Homo sapiens: one gene and its partner. The protein of the gene in region 1 purifies or fractionates together with the protein of each later gene. This does not show direct contact. Each region holds a gene or a part of one and is shown on either strand. Other genes may lie near its edges. The genes, in order: LMOD3 and PLS1.

Region 1 (4,252 bases):
AAAAAACAGATGAGAAAAAATGATAGAGTTTGTATGCCTAAAAGAAAGGACTGGAATGAAAAAACTGAAATGTTAATAGTGGTAGCTTCACAGTGAGGTAAGGGGAAGATTTTGTTCTGTGCCTTTCTATGTTATCCTAACTCTTGTACAATGAATGTATATTTCGGAATAAGAATATATTTACGAGCCAGGCACGGTGGCTCACGCCTGTAATCCCAGAACTTTGGGACACCGAGGCAGGTGGATTGCTTGAACTCAGAAATTCGAGACCAGCCTGAGCAATATGGCAAAACCCTGTCTCTACAAAAAATACAATTAGCTGGGTGTAGTGGTGCATGCCTGTGGTCCCAGCTTGATCCTGGGAGGCAGAGGTTGCAGTGAGCTGAGATCGCAGCACTGCCCTCCAGCCTGGGTGACAGAGCCAGACCCTGTCTTAAATATATATATAATAAAACTTGTATATTATATATTATTGTACCCTTTGTCACACAAATAATGGCATGTAAAACACACTGTTTTGTACTTTGCTATATTGTGTAACCTTGTACACACGTTGTTTCACCCATGTAGGGGTATATCTGTAGGATACACTTCTCAAAGTGGAATTGCTGGGTCAAAGGAAATGGGCATTTGTAATTTGGACAAATGTTGCATATTGCCCCTTCAGGGTTTGAAAACAAAATCTTCTCATAGTTTCTTTTAGTATATTAGTGGTCTGGATTTCTTTTTTAACACTTCACTTTAGAGCCATTTTCATTGATATTGGCTTAATGGATACTTAATAAGAAAAGCAAATAATTTAAAATATTAAACTCACTTATAGTGGAAATCCAAGTGCTGGTTGTCCCCATCTGTTAGATCACAGGATCTAGATGCAAACAGGACATCTTGCAAAGGTTCGGCTTACACAGAGGATGAGTGACATAGCAAGACCTCTGTTCCACTGTGCACCACTTTATTTGCTTCCACACTCACCTTGTAGGGAAGAGGCAGACCCTAAGAGCTTGATTTCTACCTTCAAGTGAATTCTTTACTTCAGAAACAACTCAGGTTGCTGGTTGGATTTCCCTTCTGAAATATTGTAAGTTGCTTTAATATTTAAATAAAAACAAGTGGAATCCCCTGGAGTATTGGGGTATGTATGTATGAGCTGCATGAATTTGTGTATGGCAATATGATGGCATATAGGAAGATAATTAATTTTATTCCTGCAGAGATTCTGTAGTCTCTGCTAGTCTCTGGCAAACATAGCAGCTGTACTGAAATGTCAGATGGATTTGCGCAGCTGACTCAAGTTGCCAAAAAGAGAGCAGCATAGTTGTTCCATAAATTGACCCCATCCAGCCAAGCCCTGCTTAATATAGATCCGGCAAGAGCTTAGCTGTGATCACTCCTAGCTGCTCAGCAAACCACTGAGGTTCCTGGGAAAAAAAAAAAAATATCTCAAGGGTGTGTTAACTTGGGACACTCGTTAACTGGGGGACCTTCTTGAGGCTTTTTTCCTTCTTTTTAAAAATCATCTTTGATTATTCTTCTTTTCTAGTAAAATAATATTTAGAAAAAATAATGTCAGAGCACAGCAGAAATTCAGATCAAGAAGAACTTCTCGATGAGGAGATTAATGAAGATGAAATCTTGGCCAACTTGTCTGCTGAAGAACTGAAAGAACTGCAGTCGGAAATGGAAGTCATGGCCCCTGACCCCAGCCTTCCCGTGGGAATGATTCAGAAAGATCAAACTGACAAGCCACCGACAGGAAACTTCAATCATAAATCTCTTGTTGATTATATGTATTGGGAAAAGGCATCCAGGCGCATGCTGGAAGAGGAACGAGTTCCTGTCACCTTTGTGAAATCCGAGGTAACCAGAGATTTGTGTACAACCGAGAAATGGCTGCCTGGGATGGGCTGTTAGGTCTCTCTGTTGTAACTGTGATTTCTCAAGACTCCAGGGTTTGGTTCTGCTTTGTTTTTGCCATATCTAGATTAAACCATAATATTTAATCCTACTCCGACTGGAACTTTCTGAAACACATTTATATTTACAAGGGGAAAATTGGGTAATTTCTTGCAAATGTCTCTTTTTAAAAATTGCTGTCGGGTTTGCTGTGTCAGAAAGCCTGTGTTCTATTGCCACGATACTTAGTGACTTAACTCATAACCCAGAGGCAGTTGTCCTTACCTCTCTCTTTCTTTTTTATTGCAGGCCCCTTTGAGAAAGTAATGACAGCTCTGTAGCCTCTGTCTCTCTGGCACATCCAAACATACGCAGTGTTTCGCACACAGTGTCAAACATTTCAGTCCTCCTGAAGTCTGGCCACACAACCTGCAATTAAACCAAGTCGAATAACCAGAAAATGTCTTATATTATTACTATGTATTGGCTGTCAGTGATGACATTTAGAAATCGATGGCTATTAAGTGGTTTTGAAGCTAGTTCTTCACTTTCTAAAACCTGAAAGCTAGAATTGTTAACTCTGCAAACTTACTGTGCATGAGCATAATTTTTTTTTTTATGTTCCACTTGAAAATGACTTAACAAAAAGAGGACAGAGATGCCTCCTAGGTAAAGTCTCTTTAGGTTATGCCTGTTTACAAAGATACATCTTGTTAAATTACTCTGAAGCTGGCTGTAATTAAGGAAAGTTGTCAATTGGTTTTACAGTCAGTAGAGTTTAAACATGTGCTAAGATTAAGAAAAGAAACAGCTGGATTGATCAGGTTAGAGTTCAAGGTACAATTTGCAGATTTTTTACAACTGGAGATCAATGGATGAAAAGCCAATTCTATGTGAATGCCAGTTTCAGGGGGTAAAAACGAGTACTTGCAACATGTTTTTCCTTCCTCTGGTATAACTTGAACAGCTTGATGGTTGGCTCCCCCTTCTGGTCAAGGTGAGAAATGCAGTGGTGAAGACTTCAGGTGGTTAAGGTGACTTGTCACTGTCTCTTCTGACCTATGTTATGAGCATGAAATTTTTGCTCAAATGAACCTGTGTCTCAACTTGCTATACTGGCTTTCAAAATGATATCTATGAGGCCCACAAGTTGCATAGAAAAGCATTATAATTGATGTGCAAGAATCTAATACATATTATTGATAAAAGGCCCATTTTATTTCCCAGACTAAGCAATTATTTCTCAATGTCTGCATAATCCTGTTTCATCTTACAGCTGGCCCTGGTTCCTAGGCACTTTCTTTCACAAGAAACTGGGATAGTAAACTTGTCCTAGACAGAGTATCATGGCAGTTGTCAAAGAACTGAAAAAATAGAATCAAAATTGAGGTTTTAAATATATATATGTATATATATATATTCAAAATCAAAATTGAGGTTTTTAAATATATATATATTCCAAAATGTCAAACGTATCTAATTTCCCATACATTATGTTATGTTCTCAGAGGAAGTTCATGTACATTCTATACTAGATTAGTAGACATTGTAGGGATGTTAATTTTAGGGCAATAATTTCCTTATTCTAATATATTTATAGTATCACATTTATAATATATTGGAATAATAAGGAAATTATTGCCCTAACTCAGGACTGTTGGGTACTAGATGCCTATTTGGTAGATACAAAATCAAAGCTTCAGTGTATCGATGAACAATTCTATGAGGTTTTCAAAACAATTTTTAACTGCTTCTGAAATTAAACACCATTAAAAAGTACAGAATATTAAAATTAATAAGGTTTCCTTTTAATACTCATTTTAATTTATGGGATAGAATAACCACCCATTTTTAGCAATCAGCTATTTAAATAAGGATTATTTAAAATAGCAACCAGCTCTTTTAAATAAGCATTTTTATTATCTCCACTAGCTGATGCTCCACTTCATATTTCTTCTCTGCTATGTATTCTAACCCTCATAAACCTCTCTTGTAGGAAAAGACTCAAGAAGAGCATGAAGAAATAGAAAAACGTAATAAAAATATGGCCCAGTATTTAAAAGAAAAGCTCAATAATGAAATAGTTGCAAATAAAAGAGAATCAAAGGGCAGCAGCAATATCCAAGAAACAGATGAAGAAGATGAAGAAGAAGAAGATGATGATGATGACGACGAAGGAGAAGATGATGGTGAAGAGAGTGAAGAAACGAACAGAGAAGAGGAAGGCAAAGCAAAGGAACAAATTAGAAATTGTGAGAACAACTGCCAGCAGGTAACTGACAAAGCATTCAAAGAACAGAGAGACAGACCAGAGGCCCAAGAACAAAGTGAGAAAAAAATATCGAAATTAGATCCT
Region 2 (3,821 bases), about 73 Mb from region 1:
CCAGAGGTGGCCTCAGCCTCAACACTTTGGGAGGCTGAGGCGGGCGAGTCACTTGAGGTCAGGAGTTGGCGACCAGCCTGGCCAACATGGTGAAACCCCGACTCTACTAAAAATACAAAAATTAGCCCGGTGAAGCCAGAAGCTGCGGCCCTGCCTTTCATATCCTGGGAACACAGAACCACTCAGGGGAAGGTAAAGCAGAACCAGGAAATGGAAAGAGAGCTCAGGCAGCAAGGGAGGGAAGCACGCTCTCAGCTGAGTTCCATTTTGAGACTCCCAGGAGAGTAAGTTCTCTATGTAATTAGGTTCATCAAGAGGAGGGAGAGGAGCACATTTTCTCACAGGTCAAAGCTGGGGCCTATGGGGTGGGGGGGGCCTTTAAATTATTTGTCTTTGACCTGGGGCCTTTCCTGAGGTATCCACACCCACCTCCAATTAGTCCACAGGGACTTCACAACTCCCCAATCTTAAAAATTGGGGGAGAATGTGTTCACACCTGGATTCTTCCTGGGGGTTTATGGCCATAGTTCAAAGGCCTAAGATTAGAGTCATGATCCATAGATATTCCAGGAGCTTCCAGCAGTGGATCCTGACACCCCAGGGAAAGAAATCCTTATACCTGGTCACTCCAGAGTTCTTAGGCTCCTACACAAGGTGAGCTTCCCAGTTTCCCATTGCCAACTCCACAGACACGCCCTGGATGACCACCAACTCACTCCCCAATCACAGCTCCACCCCAAAAGAGGGTGGGAGCAGATCAGAAGTGGCTTTAATGGTGTACCCAGAGAAAAAGCTGCTGTCCCTTTCTCTAGGAATGCTTCAAGAGAAAAGGAGATAAAGACTAAGTGGAATGAAAAAAAAAAAAAACCGGAACGATTTACCACTGTTGTTTTGGTTTTTTTAAATGTGGCTCAAAGAATGTTGGTGGTTCCACCAGCTGAAACCTGTGGCTATTCTAAGCATCTGTTAGAGTTACCTCAGAAAGAGCTTTGCATTTTTGTTAAGATATTTGATTAAGTTATTTGAGCGCTCAGTGTATAAAGTCAGATAGGCCTGGGGTCAAATCTCAGCTCAGCCACTTGTAAACTATATGACCTCAGATAAATGCTTTTATCTATCTCTCTAAGCCTCAATTTTCTCATCTAGAAAATGAGGGTAGGTCAGGTGCAGTGGTTCATGCCTGTAATCTCAGGGCTTCGGGAAGCTGAGGTGGGAGGATTGCTTGAGGCTAAAAGTTTGAGATCAGCCTAGACAACATAGCAAGACCTTATCACTATAAAAAAATTTTTTTTAATAAGCCGGGCACGTTGGTCCACACCTGGGAGGCTGAGGCGGGAGGACTGCTTGAGCCCAGGAGTTCAAGGTTACAGTGAGTTATGACTGTGCCATTCCACTCCAGATTGGGTGACAGACTGAAACCCTGTTTTTAAAAAATAAAAATTAAAAATAAATGAGTAATTGTTGCACCTATCTCACAGGATGGTTTATAAAGATGAAATGATATATTACTTGTATTTAGTATAGTGCCTGGTTCATGGAAGATATTCTGTAATACTAGTTACTAATATTACTATTATTATTTTAAGAAAGATATTTGTCATTTTACAAAGGGCCATGGTAAATTCTAGGATTTAATATTTGGACATTTAAGTGTATGAGACATTAACTTCAACATACTACCTGATTTTGCATCTGCCTAATCAATTTTCACTAACGTCATCATGAAAAACATATATATATAAAAAATATAGGCCGGGCGCGGTGGCTCATGCTTGTAATCCCAGCACTTTGGGAGGCCAAGGCGGGCGGATCACGAGGTCAGGAGATCGAGACCATCCTGGCTAACACAGTGAAACCCCGTCTCTACTAAAAATAAAAAAAAAATTAGCCGGGCGTGGTGGCGGGTGCCTGTAGTCCCAGCTACTCGGGAGGCTGAGGCAGGAGAATGGCGTGAACCCGGGAGGCGGAGCTTGCAGTGAGCCGAGATTGCGCCACTGCACTCCCGCCTGGGCCACAGAGCGAGACTCCGTCTCAAAAAAAAAAAAAAAAAAAAAAAAATATATATATATATATATATATATATATATATATATATATGAAACCAGGCCAACCCTTCCCTTCCCCACTGCTAGCCATTTCTCAAGCTCATTTGTTCTGTCTCTCCTCTCAACTGCTCTCTCTCTCCTTGACATTTTTAATGGACCATCGTTGCCTGTGGAAATATGAAGATGGTGGTCAACCACAGTGTGCAAGTCAATGGCAAGGATGTGGCATCCAACAGCTCCCTCATCGCTGTGTGCAGCTCAATGGAAAGGCTGTGTTTTGATTTGCAAAATGGCTATGATTTGCAAAATGCAACATCTGTTCCAAGTAAACAAATATTCCAAACCACCTCTTGAACTGGAAGTTTGGATTCAGCAGCACTGCTTTCTGTCTTGTTTTTCCAGGTAGAATCTGATCACAATTGTCTCTCTCTCAGCCTTACCTCACCCCCATGTTCTTGGGTCATAAACACCACCCTTTGGTGCCACCCTCCTGGCCTACCCTCACTGCACCTGGCCTACCCTCTCCAAAGCCATTGCTCACCACCTCCTGGTAGTGTACAATATATCTAGGAAATAGACTCTCAGTCCCAAGGACTTTGGGCCAACCCATTTGTGTCTGCCTCTGACAAGCTAAGCTACCATGACCTTTCCAGACTTCAACTCCCCAGTGTGAAGATTCCTAGGACCCCAGCCTCACTCCCTCCTCACTGTGTACACTCAACCTTGAACTGGCCAGCAGCCTTGTGTTTCACCTCTTCCGATGACACACACATTCTCTCATCGACCACCAAATTTCCCCCTTAGATTGGTTTCTGAGGGCTTTCAGTCCACAGAACATCTTGAACTGGAGTGTCTTGCTACCAACTCAAATTAATCTTGGGAGGCTGAGCATGGTGGCTCAGGCCTGTAATCCTAACACATTGGGAGGCTGAGGCAGGCCAAAGAATTCAAGACCAGCCTGGGAAAAATAGTGAGACCCCATCTCTAAACACAAAAAAATACAAAATTAGCCACGCATGGTGGCACGTGCCTGTGGCCACAGCTACTTGGGAGGCTGAGGTGGGAAGGATCACTTGAGCCCGGGGAGGTCAAGGCTGCAGTGAGCAGTGATCGTGCCACTGCACTCCAGCCTGGGTGACAGAGTGGGACCCTGTCTCAAAAAATAAATAAATAAATAAAAATAATCGTGGGGCCAACAACCTCAAAAAGTAATAGTTAATGAAAAGAGCTTGGGTCTAGTAATGAGGAAATTTGAACAGAGCTTCTGGCTATCCCACTAACTAGCTTAGTTAAGAATATCTGGCCGGGCGCGGTGGCTCACGCCTGTAATCCCAGCACTTTGGGAGGCCGAGGCGGGTGGATCATGAGGTCAGGAGATCGAGACCATCCTGGCTAACAAGGTGAAACCCCGTCTCTACTAAAAATACAAAAAATTAGCCGGGCGCGGTGGCGGGCGCCTGTAGTCCCAGCTACTCGGGAGGCTGAGGCAGGAGAATGGCGTGAACCTGGGAAGCGGAGCTTGCAGTGAGCCGAGATTGCGCCACTGCACTCCAGCCTGGGCGACAGAGCGAGACTCCATCTCAAAAAAAAAAAAAAAAAAAAAAAAGAATATCTGAGTCCCTCCTCTATACAATTAGGGGATAGTCTGGATAAAGCGCTACCATATAGCTCTAAGATCCTAAATGCCCACCCTCCCCATGGCAAAATGCACTTTTTATTTATTTATTTATTTATTTATTTATTTATTTATTCATTCATTCATGTAATAACTATTGA

Evidence for each region.
Region 2: the proteins of LMOD3 (region 1) and PLS1 purify together in Homo sapiens (affinity purification with mass spectrometry; one large-scale study listed by BioGRID and IntAct). This does not show direct contact.

The regions. Positions count from the first base shown.
Region 1 is NC_000003.12:69,119,701-69,123,952, reverse strand, and holds the start of LMOD3 (leiomodin-3), read left to right. Parts: upstream 1-1,357; 5' UTR 1,358-1,566; coding exon 1,567-1,860; intron 1,861-3,892; coding exon 3,893-4,252. UniProt on the Homo sapiens protein: Essential for the organization of sarcomeric actin thin filaments in skeletal muscle. Increases the rate of actin polymerization.
Region 2 is NC_000003.12:142,599,154-142,602,974, reverse strand, and holds part of PLS1 (plastin-1), read right to left. Parts: intron 2,448-3,821; exon of another isoform or gene 2,229-2,447; intron 1-2,228. UniProt on the Homo sapiens protein: Actin-bundling protein. In the inner ear, it is required for stereocilia formation. Mediates liquid packing of actin filaments that is necessary for stereocilia to grow to their proper dimensions.